Linked DNA regions of Homo sapiens: regions 2 and 3 are each linked to region 1. Evidence: fine-mapped expression QTL. A gene starts in region 1. Each other region holds a variant in brackets. All regions are shown on one strand. Distances are between the middles of the regions.

The links.
Region 2: its variant is fine-mapped to the expression of P2RY11 in fibroblasts (GTEx, PIP 0.99).
Region 3: its variant is fine-mapped to the expression of P2RY11 in whole blood (TOPMed, PIP 0.94).

Annotation. Positions count from the first base shown.
Region 1 is chr19:10,109,524-10,114,742 of GRCh38, forward strand. It overlaps P2RY11 (purinergic receptor P2Y11), which reads left to right and starts at 2,170. Exons shown (of 2, transcript NM_002566.5): 1 at 2,170-2,217; 2 at 4,110-5,219. The coding sequence starts at 2,199. The coding sequence ends at 5,215. PPAN (peter pan homolog) reads left to right here. Exons shown (of 12, transcript NM_020230.7): 6 at 108-184; 7 at 390-497; 8 at 600-723; 9 at 801-879; 10 at 962-1,091; 11 at 1,174-1,343; 12 at 1,422-2,489. The coding sequence ends at 1,642. It overlaps PPAN-P2RY11 (PPAN-P2RY11 readthrough), which reads left to right. Exons shown (of 13, transcript NM_001198690.2): 6 at 108-184; 7 at 390-497; 8 at 600-723; 9 at 801-879; 10 at 962-1,091; 11 at 1,174-1,343; 12 at 1,422-1,561; 13 at 4,110-5,219. The coding sequence ends at 4,331. It overlaps SNORD105B (small nucleolar RNA, C/D box 105B), which reads left to right and starts at 226; the gene lies at 226-317. RefSeq lists enhancers at 1-544, 3,920-3,989 and a silencer at 4,150-4,444.
Region 2 is chr19:10,214,982-10,220,200 of GRCh38, forward strand. It overlaps the pseudogene LOC103689916. Among named protein-coding and RNA genes, the nearest start is that of MIR4322, 13 kb to the right of the region's middle. RefSeq lists enhancers at 4,585-5,085, 4,726-4,775, 4,906-5,135, 5,086-5,219. The variant A/G (reference allele first, on the strand shown) is at 2,387.
Region 3 is chr19:10,170,824-10,176,042 of GRCh38, forward strand. It overlaps DNMT1 (DNA methyltransferase 1), which reads right to left. Exons shown (of 41, transcript NM_001130823.3): 7 at 4,717-4,795; 8 at 3,048-3,082; 9 at 2,267-2,351. Among named protein-coding and RNA genes, the nearest start is that of DNMT1, 22 kb to the right of the region's middle. The variant C/T (reference allele first, on the strand shown) is at 2,832.

The sequences.
Region 1 (5,219 bases):
CTAGCCAGTGCCACAGTCCACGAACAGTGTGTGTATCCCCCAAAGCCCCCACTTCCCCAAACTTTGCCATGAGTCTACTGGACTATGCTCTCTTCCTCCCCTTCCAGGTGAACCTGAACACCATCAAGCGCTGCCTCCTCATCGACTACAACCCCGACTCCCAGGAGCTGGACTTCCGCCACTAGTGAGTGTCCCAGCAGGATGGGAGACGAGGGGGTGCCGGGTGGGGGCCTCCACATGCGGCTGATGACAGCACTTCTGCTGAGACGCTGTGATTGCTCTGTCCAAAGTAAACGCCCTGACGCACTGTGGGAAGGGTGAGATGGGCACCGCCAGCCCCATCACGTGCCCCCTGACCACCCCCTTGCCGTCCACTCATGTTCCTGCAGTAGCATCAAAGTTGTTCCTGTGGGCGCGAGTCGCGGGATGAAGAAGCTGCTCCAGGAGAAGTTCCCCAACATGAGCCGCCTGCAGGACATCAGCGAGCTGCTGGCCACGTGAGGAGGGCATAGGGCGGGAGGCCACTGCGGCCCGGGGACCCCAGAACAGGACCGGGAGCCTGAGCTCCCCCACTGAGCCCTGTTATGTCCTACACACAGGGGCGCGGGGCTGTCGGAGAGCGAGGCAGAGCCTGACGGCGACCACAACATCACAGAGCTGCCTCAGGCTGTCGCTGGCCGTGGCAACATGCGGGCCCAGCAGAGTGCAGTGCGGCTCACCGAGGTGAGGCCCAGGGCAGGGGGACCCCCGGGCTCCACCAGTCCCAACGGTGGGCTGACGCTTCTTCCTCGTCCCCTCAGATCGGCCCGCGGATGACACTGCAGCTCATCAAGGTCCAGGAGGGCGTCGGGGAGGGCAAAGTGATGTTCCACAGTTTTGGTGAGGCCGGGGCCGCCGGGGGTGGGGGGTCATGGGTGTGGAGCTGCACCCGGATCTTGGTGACCCGCGTCTCTTGGCTCAGTGAGCAAGACGGAGGAGGAGCTGCAGGCCATCCTGGAAGCCAAGGAGAAGAAGCTGCGGCTGAAGGCGCAGAGGCAGGCCCAGCAGGCCCAGAATGTGCAGCGCAAGCAGGAGCAGCGGGAGGCCCACAGGTCCAGGCAGAGCTGGGAAGGGCAGGGCCAAGGGGGGGTCCCTGGGATGGGCGGCTATGTTGACCCCCACGCCCTCCTCCAGAAAGAAGAGCCTGGAGGGCATGAAGAAGGCACGGGTCGGGGGTAGTGATGAAGAGGCCTCTGGGATCCCTTCAAGGACGGCGAGCCTGGAGTTGGGTGAGGACGATGATGAACAGGAAGATGATGACATCGAGTATTTCTGCCAGGCGGTGGGCGAGGCGCCCAGTGAGGGTATGGAGTGGGGTCTGCAGCAGGGCACCCAGAGCCTGTCCTTGTCTCTGGGGGCCCTGACACTGTCTCTCCCCACAGACCTGTTCCCCGAGGCCAAGCAGAAACGGCTTGCCAAGTCTCCAGGGCGGAAGCGGAAGCGGTGGGAAATGGATCGAGGCAGGGGTCGCCTTTGTGACCAGAAGTTTCCCAAGACCAAGGACAAGTCCCAGGGAGCCCAGGCCAGGCGGGGGCCCAGAGGGGCTTCCCGGGATGGTGGGCGAGGCCGGGGCCGGGGCCGCCCAGGGAAGAGAGTGGCCTGAGCCCAAGCCGCACCGGAGCAGCGGCTGGATTGAACGCCCCAGATTGGGGCCCGAGATGTGGCCCTCGGTTTCCTTTCATAAAGGAGTTGTGTCCCCAGCCCTTCCACTCCAGTAAAGAACTGAATTGGCCAGGGGTCCACGTCAGCGTTTGGGATGGGGGATTCTGGAGCCATACAAAGCAACCCAGAGAGTCCTGGGCCGGCCACACCCGAGAGTCCCTCCCACCTGGTTTCTTCCTGGAAGCTGGGTCTCTCCCCTACCCTGCACGGGGTTGGTTTCATTGGTGGCAGCAGCAGCCATGAGTGGCCCCTCCCCCCAGTCCCACCAAAGAGCCGTGCAAGCAGACAGGTCACACTTTCAGCAGATGAGCTTGAACCTCAGGAGGGTTGTGGCACAATGAGGAAGGAAACGTGGGTGGAAAGGCACGCTGGCCTGCTCTGCTGGCTGGGCCAGTAACTGGGGATGGGGCTGGGGCAGGGCCCACTAAGCCACTGGTGACTGGGGGAGGGGCTGGGGAACTGGGTAGCAGACACAGGCTGAGGATCGGCACGGGAGCATGGCAGCCAACGTCTCGGGTAAGGAGAAGGCATGTTGGCTGTCTCTGGGGGTCTGCAGATTGTCAGGAGGTGGGGGTAGTGGGTATTGGTAAAACACCTAGGTCTGGGGCTGGGCACGGTGGCTCACGCCTGTAATCCCAGCACTTTGGGAGGTCGAGGGGGGTGGAACACGAGGTCAGGGGTTCGAGACCACCCTGACCAACAAGGAGAAACCCCGTCTCTACTAAAAATAAAAAAATTAGCTGGGCCTGGTGGCACATGCCTGTAATCCCAGCTACTCGGGAGGCTGAGACAAGAGAATCACTTAAACCCGGGAGGCGGAGGTTGCCATGAGCCGAGATTGCACCATTGCACTCCAGCTTGGGCAATGAGCGAAACTCCATCTCAAAAAAAAAAAGCCTAGGTCAAGGCTGGGTGTGGTGATGCGAGCCTGTGATTCCAGCTACTCGGGAGGCTGAGGCAGGGGGATCACTTGACCCCAGGAGGTCGAGACTGCACTGAGCTGTGATTGCACCACTGCACCTCAGCCTCGGTGACAGTGAAATCCTGTCTCCAAAAAAAAGCCACGTCTAGACGACACTTCCTCCTTAAGCAGGCTGGCGTTGGGAGCAGGGAGGCGCCTCCGGAGAAGCCTGTCCCCAGCCTGCAGAGGCAGGGGTGGGGTGCACAAGGAGTGAGTGCCCCTGTGCTGCTGTGCCCTGGGCACTGTGGTGAGCACTGGCACCAGTAATGGGTAAGCAGGCCCCCCCATCCTCCCGAAGGAGGGAGATTTTTCTCACCGTCATCAGGTGGCGCAGGGTATGGGGGAAAATAACGCAGGGAAGGGAGAGTGGAGGCACGAGGGCTGCTGTCAACAGTGGTTAGGGTGGCCTTGGGGCCTCTCGCAGGCAGGACCACGGACGTGGGAAGAGGAGCCTCAAGAATGTCTGGGTGTGGCTGGGCACGGTGGCTCACACTTGTAATCTCAGCACTTTGGGAGGCTGAGGCGGGCAGATCTGAGGTCAGGAATTCGAGACCTCTTGGCCAACATGGGGAAACCCCATCTCTACTAAAAATGCAAAATTTAAAATTAAACCAGGCGTGGTGGTGGGTGCCTGTAGTCCCAAATACTCAGGAAGCTGAGGCAGGAGAATCACTTGAACCCGGGAGGCAGAGGTTGCAGTGAGCTGAAGTCACATCATTGCACTCCAGCCTGGGTGATGAGAGTGAGACTCTGTCTCAAAAAAAAAAGTCTGGGTGCGAAGGTACCAAGGCACAAGTCTGCAAGAGCAGCCAGGAAGCCTGGGTGGGCTGGTGCGAGGGAGTGAGTCGCGGAGCACAGAGGGTGGCACTGGGGGGTATGGCGGGCGGGAGCGCTCTTGGGGGACCTTGTGGGGTGAGTCTGGCTTTTTGGCGGCAACTCCCTGGCCAAGTGTGAGCACCTGGAAGCAAAAGGATGGGGCAGGACTCCAGCGCTCGCGGGTGCTCTCTGGTGGCCACGGGGAGAAGAGGCTTTGGGCGGCGGCGGGTGCCAAGGTCAGGGCAGAGTGGGGGCTGGACCCCCACGGGGCTTTGGACGGCACAGATCTGAAGTGGAGCCGGCAGGCCTTGCTGGGGCTGGACTTTGGGGAGGAGGCCTCTAGTGGGGCCAGGTGTGGTGGGGGAGTAGGGTGGCCGCTGTCTGTGTTACCAGTGGACCTTGAGCTCCAAGACTGCCTGGCCCGCCTAAGCTGGTCCATTGGGGCCCAATGCATAACCCTGGCTCTGAGCCTCAATCCTGTCCACATAAAGGAGTGGAGCCCGGTCCCCCTCCAGGGAGGGGAAAGAACTCGTGTCCAGGGATCCACGCCATGGCAGACGTGGGCTCTTGGGGTAGCAGGAGCCGCCTTATGGGGGAATAGGGCTCAGCTGGTGACACCTTCTGCCCACAGGTGCCAAGTCCTGCCCTGCCAACTTCTTGGCAGCTGCCGACGACAAACTCAGTGGGTTCCAGGGGGACTTCCTGTGGCCCATACTGGTGGTTGAGTTCCTGGTGGCCGTGGCCAGCAATGGCCTGGCCCTGTACCGCTTCAGCATCCGGAAGCAGCGCCCATGGCACCCCGCCGTGGTCTTCTCTGTCCAGCTGGCAGTCAGCGACCTGCTCTGCGCCCTGACGCTGCCCCCGCTGGCCGCCTACCTCTATCCCCCCAAGCACTGGCGCTATGGGGAGGCCGCGTGCCGCCTGGAGCGCTTCCTCTTCACCTGCAACCTGCTGGGCAGCGTCATCTTCATCACCTGCATCAGCCTCAACCGCTACCTGGGCATCGTGCACCCCTTCTTCGCCCGAAGCCACCTGCGACCCAAGCACGCCTGGGCCGTGAGCGCTGCCGGCTGGGTCCTGGCCGCCCTGCTGGCCATGCCCACACTCAGCTTCTCCCACCTGAAGAGGCCGCAGCAGGGGGCGGGCAACTGCAGCGTGGCCAGGCCCGAGGCCTGCATCAAGTGTCTGGGGACAGCAGACCACGGGCTGGCGGCCTACAGAGCGTATAGCCTGGTGCTGGCGGGGTTGGGCTGCGGCCTGCCGCTGCTGCTCACGCTGGCAGCCTACGGCGCCCTCGGGCGGGCCGTGCTACGCAGCCCAGGCATGACTGTGGCCGAGAAGCTGCGTGTGGCAGCGTTGGTGGCCAGTGGTGTGGCCCTCTACGCCAGCTCCTATGTGCCCTACCACATCATGCGGGTGCTCAACGTGGATGCTCGGCGGCGCTGGAGCACCCGCTGCCCGAGCTTTGCAGACATAGCCCAGGCCACAGCAGCCCTGGAGCTGGGGCCCTACGTGGGCTACCAGGTGATGCGGGGCCTCATGCCCCTGGCCTTCTGTGTCCACCCTCTACTCTACATGGCCGCAGTGCCCAGCCTGGGCTGCTGCTGCCGACACTGCCCCGGCTACAGGGACAGCTGGAACCCAGAGGACGCCAAGAGCACTGGCCAAGCCCTGCCCCTCAATGCCACAGCCGCCCCTAAACCGTCAGAGCCCCAGTCCCGTGAGCTGAGCCAATGATGTG
Region 2 (5,219 bases), 110 kb after region 1:
TTCCAGGTCATTCCTTTGTTGGTCCCTATTAGGCAACAGCCTCCCTAGGGGAAAAAGGAGGTGAAAGTCATCTTGTGTTTCCTGCTGGAAGGACCACTTTAATTTGGGCTCCAAGATTTGAGAGCTATCAACAAATGGGATCTTCAGATCCAGATATTGAGGAGGATCAGATATGATTGTGGGCCCGGCGCAGTGGCTCATGCCTGTAATCCCAGCACTTTGGGAGGCCAAGGTGGGTGGATCATGAGGTCAGGAGTTCAAGACCAGCCTGGCTAACATGGTGAAACCCTGTCTCTACTAAAAATACAAAAAAATTAGCCAGGCATGGTGGCGGGCACCTGTCATCCCAGCTACTTGAGAGGCTGAGGCAAGGAGAATCTCTTGAACCTGGGAGGCGGAGGTTGCAGTGAGCCGAGATCGCACCATTGCACTACAGCCTGGGCGACAGTGCAAGACTCCATCTCAAAAAAATTAGCTGGGTATGATGGTGCACGCCTGTAATCCCAGCTACTTGGAAGGCTGAGGCGGGAGAAGCGCTTGAACCTGGGAGGCAGAGGTTGCAGTGAGCCAAGACTGCGCCATTGCACTCCAGCCTGGGTGACAAGAGAGAAACTCTGTCTCAAAAAAAAAAAAATTAGCTAGGCGTGGTGGTGCGTGCCTGTAATCACCGCTACTAGAGAAGCTGAGGCGGAAGAAACTCTCGAACCTGGGAGGTGGAGGTTGCAGTGAGCCGAGACTGTGCCACTGCACTCCAGCCTGGGCGATAGAGTGAGACTCTATCTCCAAAAATAAATAAATAAATAATCATTTTTTTGAGACGGGGTTTCGCTCTTCTTGCCCAGGCTGGAGTGCAATGGTGCGATCTCCGGCTTACCACAACCTCTGCCTCCTGGGTTCAGGCAATTCTCCTGCCTCAGCCTCCCGAGTAGCTGGGATTACAGGCATGTGCCACCACACCCGGCTAATTTTGTATTTTTAGTAAAGACAGGATTTCTCTATGTTGGTCAGGATGGTCTTGAACTCCCAACCTCAGGTGATCCGCCCGCCTCGGCCTCCCAAAGTGCTGGGATTACAGACGTGAGCCACCGCGCCCAGCTGAAAAACATTTTAAAAAGATATAAGTGTGGTCTTCAGTGACTCACTGGGTTCCAATCCTGGCCCCTTGACTCCCATGCTACTTGACCTTGGGTGAATTACTTAACCTCTCTGTGCCTCGGTTTCTTTATCTGTCAAAAAGCCAATAATAGCACCTACTCTATAGGATTATTGTGAGGATTCCAGAAGTTTGCAGATGTCAAATGATTCTCACAGTGCCCAGCACACGAGCACACATTAGACTTTTTATTTTTTGAGACAGGGTCTCACTCTGTTGCCCAGGCTGGAATGCAGTGGCATGACCACAGTTCATTGCAGCCTCGGTCACCTAGGCTCAAAGAATCCTCCCACCTCAGCCTCCAGAGTGGCCAGGACTATAGACACGTTCCACCACACCAGGGTATATATGTATTTATTTACTTACTTTTACAGATGAGGTCTCACTATGTTGCCCAGGCTCATCTCAAACTCCTGGCCCCAAGTGATCCTCCCGCATTGGTCTCCCAAAGGGCTGGGATTACAGGCATGAGCCACCATGCCTGGCCCTATTTTCTTTTCTTTCCTTTTTTTTTTTTTTTTTGAGACAGAGTCTTGCTCCATCACCCAGGCTGGAGTGCGGTGGCGCGATCTCGGCTCACTGCAAGCTCCGCCTCCCAGGTTCACGCCATTCTCCTGCCTCAGCCTCCCAAGTAGCTGGGATTACAGGTGCCCACCACCACGCCTGCTTAATTTTGTATTTTTAGTAGAGATGGGGTTTCACCATGCTGGCCAGGCTGGTTTCAAACTCCTGACCTCAGGTGATCCACTCGCCTCGGCATTCCAAAGTGCTGGGATTACAGGAGTGAGCTCCCACACCTGGCACTATTTTCTTTTCTTTTTTTTATTTGTTTCTGTTTTGTTTTGTTTGTTTTGGTGGTCTAAAATAAATTTTTTAATTGCACATTTGTGTCTTGGGTTATCTGTGGGGTGAGAAACCTATTCCTCACTTCCAATCCCAGCTATCCAGGTACAATCTGGTGTTGTGGTCTGGCTGTGGGCAAGGGGTACAGGTGGGTGCAGAGCTGGCCCTCGAGTCTGCACCAACGTCTTCAAGGCAGGGAGCTCAGACCATGGTTGTACTTGCACTGCTTTGGGGCCTCATTGAAGCCCTCACACAGGGACAGGTCATTCTCAGTGGTCGAACAGTCCAGGAACTGCCTGATCTTGTAGGTGCAGAGCCCCATCTGTAGGGGCTGGGAGGCAGCACCGGTGGGGGTCTGACTGGCCAGTCGGCCACACTGTGGCTTCCCCA[A/G]GGCCTGGTGGCTGTGGTGAGACCTTATTATATTAGATATTAGATATTATTATATTAGATATTAGAGACGGCAATGGCGGCAGCAGTTCTGTCGCAGGGACAAATGCCGCCCCCCCTTTTTTTTTTTTTTGAGATGCAGTTTCGCTCCTGTTGCCCAGGCTGGAGTGCAAAGGCGCGATCTTGGCTCACTGCAACCTCTGCCTCCCGGGTTCAAGCAATTCTCCAGCCTCAGCCTCCCCGGTAGCTATGATTACAGGCGCTCGCCACCACGCCCAGCTAATTTTTTTTTTTGAGACAGAGTCTCACTCTGTTGCCCAGGCTGGAGTGCAGTGGCGCAATCTCGGCTCACTGCAACCTCCATCCCCCGGGTTCAAGAATTCTCCTGCCTCAGCCTCCCTAGTAGCTGCGACTACAGGTGCGTGCCACCACGCCCAGCTAGCTTTTGTATTTTTAGTAGAGACAGGGTTTCACCATGTTGGCCAGGCTGGTCTTGAACTCCTGACTTCATGATCCACCCGTCTTGGCCTCCCAAAGTGCTGGGATTGCAGGCATGATCCCAGGTGTAATCCCAAAATTAGGCACATGGCCTAATTTTGTATTTTTAGTAGAGATAGGGTTTCACCATGCTGGCCAGGCTGGTTTCAAACTCTTGACCTTGGCTGGGCACAGTGGCTCACGCCTGTAATCCCAGCACTTTGGGAGGCCTAGGCAAGCAGATCACTTGAGGCCAGGAGTTCGACACCAGCCTGACCAACATGATGAAACCCCCGTCTCTACTATAAATACAAAAATTAGCCAGGCTTGGTGGCACATGCCTGTAATGCCAGCTACTCGGGAGGCTGAGGCAGGAGAATCACTTGAACTCAGGAGGTGGAGGTTGTAGTGAGTCGAGATCACATCATTGCACTCCAGCCTGGGCATCAGAATAAGACTCCGTCTCAAAAACAAAACAAAACAAAACAAAAAAACTCCTGACCTCAGGTGATCTGCCCACCTCGGCCTCCCAAAGTGGTGGGATTACAGGCATGAGCCACCGTGCCCGGCCCTATTTTATTTTCTTCCTAGCACTTAACACTCACTGAAATGACCATCATTTGCTTTTGTTTTATTTATTCAACAAGTATTTACTGAGGACCTACTGTGTGTAGGCATTCCAGGCAGAGGGAACAGCAGGTGCAAAGGCCCTGGGGTGGGAACATGCCAAGTAGTGTTTAAGATGTTAGAGATAGCCAGGCATGGTGGCTCATGCCTGTAATCCCAGCACTTTGGGAGGCTGAGGTGGGAGGAGCACTGAGCCCAGGAGTTTGAGAGCAGCCTGGGCAACATGGTGAAACCCTGTCTCTACAAACAATACAAAAAAGCAGGCCAGTGTGTTGGCACATACCTGTAGTTCCACCTACTTGGGAGATTGAGGTGGGAGGATGGCTTGAGCCCAGGAGGTCAAGGCTGCGGTGAGCTGTGATTACGTCACTGCACTCCAGCCTGGGTGACAGAGTCAGACCCTGTATCAAAAAAAAAAAAAAAGTTAGAGAGCCATAAATAGCCAGGCAAGTTGGCTCACACCTGTAATCTCAGCACTTTGGGAGGTTGAGGCAGGCAGATCTCTTAAGCCTAGGAGTTCAAGACCAGCCTGGGCAACATGGAAGAATCATGTCTCTACAAAAAAAGAAAATTAGCAGGCTTATAATCCCAGTTACTAGGAAGCCTGAGGTGGAAGTATCACCTGAGCCCATGAGCCCAGGAGGTTGAGGCTGTAGTGAGCTGTGATTGCACCACTGCACTTGAGCCTGGGTAACAGAGTAAGACCTTGTCTCAAAAAAAAACAAAAAAACAACACTGGAGATACATTAGTAAATAAGGCAGGTGCAGTCCTATATTCACAGTGCTTGTATTTTAATGGGGGTAGAGACAGATAAATTGATACATATTAGGTTGGTGCTAAAATCATTGCGGTTTTTGCCATTAAAAGTCATTGTAGGCTGGGCACGGTAGCTCACGCCTGTAATCCCAGCACTTTGGGGGGCCGAGGTGGGTGGATCACAAGGTCAGGAGATTGAGACCATCCTGGCTAACACGGTGAAACCCTGTCTCTACTAAAAAAAAAAAATACAAAAAATTAGCCTGGTATGGTGGCGGGCACTAGTAGTCCCAGCTACTCAGGAGGCTGAGGCAGGAGAATGGCGTGAACCCAGGAGGCGGAGTTTGCAGTGAGCCGAGATCGGGCCATACACTCTAGCCTGGGTGACAGAGCGAGACTCCATCTCAAAAAAAAAAAAAAGTCATTGCGGTTTTTGCCATTAAAAGAAATAGCAAAAGTCATTGCAATTTTTGCTATTAAAGGTAATGGCAAAAACCGCAATGACTTTTGCACCAACTTAATAATATATACTGCCAGGTAATAAGCAAGTGACTCCTTTCTGAGGAGGTGGCATTTGAGCAGAGTCCTGAAGGGGGAGATAGAGAACCCTGTGGGTACTTGGGGAAAATCTATTGACTCCAGCCTGGCCTGTGCCTTTTTCCCCCACCCCACCCCCCATCCCATCTAGGGTTCAGGTTTCCAAACAGAGGTTGTTGTCTCAACTGCTAGAGAAGGGGAATTCCGATGGGGGTTGCAGGCCCTCAGCCTCTGCGGTCTGCCTTCTCTCCCACTGGCTGTCCTAGTCTTTGAGCTGGTGTTGCTGTGTGGGGCTCCAGCTTGGGTGCCTAGGGTCCCCCATCAAAGGGTTCATGCCTGAAATCCCAGCACTTTGGGAGGCCAAGGTGGAGGCAGGAGGATCGCTTGAGCCCAGGAGTTCGAGACCAGCCTGGGCAACATAGGGAGACCCCCCATCTC
Region 3 (5,219 bases), 61 kb after region 1:
CACTTTATCATCCAGGCTGGATTGCAGTGGGACAATCATGGCTCACTGTATCCTCAGCCTCCTGAGCTCAAGTGATCTTCCTGCCTCAGCCTCCTGAGAAGCTGGAACTACAGGCACACTGCCTGTTGTAAGCTCCACCACATCCAGCTGATTTTTGTATTTTTTGCAGAGACGGGGTCTCACTACATTGCCCAGGCTGGCCCTGAACTCCTGAGCTCAAGCGATCCACCCACCTCGGCCTCCCAAAATGCTAGAATTACAGGCATGAGCCACCACACCCGGCCCTCAGTCATCTTATTAAAAAACAAAACAAACAGAAAAAAAAACAGGACCCAGCATCTGTATTGCATAGAACCTTAGACTCAGATTTTACAAAGAAGATGAGGGACTGGGGAAAGAGCTGGTCTGACTTCAGAGAGGAGAATACAACTTTATGTCTGGATGATGCTAAAGAATTTTAGCACCTCCTACATCTGAAAATTAGATCTTCACCAAGATCTCGTCAGCCAGAGAAGGTGGCTGAGGTGACAGACTGAAACTGACTAGTTGATTTAAGTAGCATAGGTTGGCCGGTGTGGTGGCTCGTGCCTGTAATCCCAGCACTTTGATGGCTGAGGCAGGTGGACCGTTCGAGGTCAGCAGTTTGAGACCAGCCTGGCCAACATGGTGAAACCCCGTCTCTACTAAAAACACAAAAATTGGCTAGGCGCGGTGGTTCACGCCTGTAATCCCAGCACTTTGGGAGGCCGAGATGGGAGGATCACGAGGTCAGGAGATCAAGACCATCCTGGCTAACGTGGTGAAACCCCTTCTCTACTAAAAATACAAAAAATTAGCCGGGCATGGTGGCAGGCGCCTGTGGTCCCAGCTACTCGGGAGGCTGAGGCAGGAGAATGGTGTGAACCCAGGAGGTGGAGCTTGCAGTGAGCGGAGATCAAGCCACTGCACTTCAGCCTGGGCGACAGAGCGAGACTCCGTCTCAAATAAATAAATAAATAAATAAATAAATAAATAAATAAATAAAAACACAAAAATTAGCCAGGTGTGGTGGCAGGCGCCTGTAGCCCCAGCTAGTTGGGAGGCTGGGACATGAGAATTACTTGAACCTGGGAGGCGGAGGTTGCAATGAGCCAAGATCGCACCTCTGCACTCCAGCCTGGGTGATAGAGCGGGAGACTGTCTCAAAAAAAAAAAATTAAATTAAATTAAATAAATACCACAAATAAGTAGCAAAGATCCTCGCTATGACAACCTCATAACCCACCTTCCATGTAGAGAACTACAAAAAAATAAGTTTGAAAAGTATTTTAGGCCGGGTGTGGTGGCTCACGCCTATAATCCCAGCACTTTGGGAGGCCAAGGCAGGTGGATCACCTGAGATTGGGAGTTCAAGACCAGCCTGATCAACATGGAGAAACCCCATCTTTACTAAAAATACAAAATTATCTGGCTGTGGTGGCAGGCACCTGTAATCCCAGCTACTCAGGAGGCTGAGGCACAAGAACCCGGGAGGCAGAGGTTGCGGTGAGACAAGATCACACCACTGCATTCCAGCCTGGGCAACAGAGCAAGACTCCATCTCAAAAAAAAAAAAAAAAAAAGTTTTAGCACCTCGTACGTCTGAAAATTAGATCTTCACAAAGATCTCATCAGCCAGAGAAGCAAGAAGGCGAGGTGACAAACTGAAGCTCTGTGACTAGTTGATTAAGTGGCATAGGTTGGCCGGTGTGGTGGCTCATGCCTGTAATCCTAGCACTTTGGTGGCTGAGGCAGGTGGATCACTCGAGGTCAGGAGTTCAAGATCAGCCTGGCCAACACAGTGAAACCCCATCTCCACTAAAATTAGCCGAGTATGGCGGCGGGCGCCTGTAGTCCCAGTGACTCAAGAGGCTGGGACATGAGAATCACTTGAACCTGGGAGGCAGAGGTTGCAACGAGCCGAGATCGCACCTCTGTACTCATTCCAGCCTGGGTGACAGAGTGGGAGACTGTCTCAAAAATAAATAAATAAATAAAATAAAATAAAATATCACAAATAAGTAGCAAGGGTCCTCACTATCACAATCTCATAACCCACCTTTCATGTAGAGACCACGAGAAAACAAGTTTGAAAGGTGTTTAGCCAAAGTCAAAGGCATTTCGATCACTAGCAAAACCCATCTTGTTCTTCCACGTTCCCCACCCCCTGTCCCCACGTCCTGGAAGGAAATTGGGACCATATAGGATTAAGGGAGAATTAACAAACTTAGAGGTGATAGAGCTTTACTTTTTCATCTCTTTCTTCTTCCTTTTCAGTGCGCGTTCCTGATTTTGCTCTTTCAGGTTCTTCTGCAGGAAGCGGTCTAGCAACTCTGTCAAGCAAAATAACACAGACCCCAAGTGTGAGTGCCAGGAGCTTCCCCAAAGAAGCAGTTTTCATAAAGCTCCTCTTTCCCCCAAAAGCAATCTTCATTATCTCAGGAGCCCTGACAGACACATACTCATTTAACATTTAGTATTTGATATGACTTTTACACCTGGTTCGAATGCCAGCTGCCCTCGATTCATTCCTTCCAAGAAAACAGGAGAATTCTACTTGAATCTAAACGCTAATGATCTGACCCCAAATTCAGATACTTCATAACGATATGGTTGCCATGGAAACACACGATAAAGTTCTTCTTTTTAAACTTTTTTTTTTTTTTTTGAGATGGAGTCTTGCTCTGTCACTCAGGCTGGAGTGCAGTGGAATGATCTCAGATCACTGCAGCCTCTACCTCCTGGGTTCAAGCAATCCTTCTGACTCAGCCTCCTGAGTAGCTGGGATTAAAGGCACATTCCACCACGCCCAG[C/T]TAAGTTTTGAATTTTTAGTAGAGACGGGGTTTCGCCATGTTGGTCAGGCTGGTCTTGAACTCCTGACCTCAAGTGATTCGCCCATCTTGGCCTCCCAAAGTGCTGAGATTACAGGCATGAGTCACCGTGCCCGGCCTTAAACTTTCTGAAAAAGTTTTGTGATCAAGATTACACAACTCGTAGAACAAAAAGAAAGGTATAGTAACTATTCTTACCGTTCTCTGGATGTAACTCTACGTCTCTTCTCATCCTGTGTGGAGGGAAGGAAGAACAAAAAAGATTAGAATACTGGTTTCAAGGGAAGGTCAACACCAAAAGTGTGAGTTGAAATATTAACACATTTGACATGGTTAGAGCAAGAGTGGGAAAAGAAGGGGCCTGGGTTTTGGGGAGAAGATCTGAGAAACTCTTACTCTGGTATTAATCCCCACCAACCCCAAAACAAAAGCAGGTCCGAGAAGTAGGCAGGCACACTGCCCATCACTAGAGATCGCCTGGTGATACTATGTAAAAGAATCAAAGATTCTCCATCTTGTGTCAGGAATTTGTTTAATTTATTTGTTAGAGACCAGTCTGGGCAACATGGGAAACCTCATCTCTACAAAAAATACAAAACTTAGCTCATTGGCATGCGCCTGTAGTCCCAGCTGCTTGGGAGGGTGAGGTGGGAGGATCGCTTAAGCCCAGGAGGTTGAGGCTGCAGTGAGCCATGACTGCGCCACTGCACCCCAGCCTGGTGACAGAATGAGACCTGTCTCAAAGAAAAGAAAAGAAAAGAAAAAAGACAGAACTGTAATCCCAACACTTTGGGAGGCTGAAGCGGGTGGATCACTTGAGGTCAGGAGTTCAAGACCAGCCTGGCCAACACAGTGAAATCCCATCTCTACTAAAAATATAAAAATTAGCTGGGTATGATGGCACATGCCTTGTAGTCTCAGCTACTCAGGAAGCTGAGGATGGAGAGTCACTTGAACCCAGGAGGCGGAGGTTGCAGTGAGCTGAGATCGTGCCACTGCACTCCATCCTGAGTGAAAGAGTGAGACTCCATCTAAAAAAAATTAAAAACAACAACAACAACAACAAAAAAAACAAATTGGCTGGGCACGGTGGCTCACACCTATAATCCTGGCACTTTGGGAGGCTGAGGCGGGCAGATTGCCTAAGCTCAAGGAGTTCGAGACCAGCCTGGGCAACATGGGAGACCAGCCTGGGCAACATGGTGAAACCCCATCCCTACTAAAATACAAAAATTAGCCGGGCGTGGTGGCACGCGCCTGTAGTCCCAGCTACTCGGGAGGCTGAAGCAGGAGAATCACTTGAACCCGGGAGGCTGAGGTTGCAATGAACCAAGATTGTGCCACAAGAGCAAAACCCTGTCTCAAAAAAAAAAAAAAGTCTCAAAAAAAGAAGTCTAAATACATACATACATACACACACACACACACACACACACACACACACACACACACACACATATATATAACATGTATGTATGTAAGACTGCCTTGCCACTTGAGCTATGACATCATTTCTCCCCTGGACCTCCAGCCTGCCCTGCAGATTTCAAATTTGCTGGCTTTCACAATCTTGTGAGCCAATTTCTCAAAATAAAGTCTCTCCCCATAAATATATATTCCAACTATGTACCCATAAAAACAAGAAAAAAATCAAACGAATTATATATATATACATACACGTGCATATGTATATATGTACCTATAGCTGTATACACACATATACATTCTATTGGTCCTGTCTCTCTGGAGAGCCCTAAATAGAGCCCTAGACAGGGTTTTTATTTACTTGGACAGAACACATATGAAGTCACAATCATCAAATACACCAAGTTAAGGTAGAGTCAGGAAATGAAAGCACTGGCCCTACCTGGTCTTTGTCTTCTTCCTTGATGGACTCATCCGATTTGGCTCTTTCAGACTCTTCCTGAGGTTTCCGTTTGGCAGGGCTGTCACACACAGTGAGGCCAACCATTAGTGGAACAAGACCCTAGGCCTCCAGCTGGCCTGAAGTGGACCCTCATTCACCAGGATGTTGAAAGAGGCTTCAAGTTTAATGTTTCTCTGAATGACGGGTTTAGAATGTTGTCTTGCCATCTTGTAAGTCCTAAGAAATCACGGGTCTAAACACCGATCAACAGCTGCTAGTGTCAGAGAAGAGACCTCACACACCTTTCTGATGGAGGGACACAGCACCATCCATAAAGTCAGCCTCAGACCAGGTGCAGTGGCTCACGCCTATAATCCCAGCACTTTGGGAGTCCAAGGCATGAGGATCACCTGAGTTCAGGAGTTTCAGACCAGCCTGGCCAACGTGGTAAAACCCTGTCTCTACCAAAAATACAAACATTAGCCAGGGGTTGTGGCGGGCAC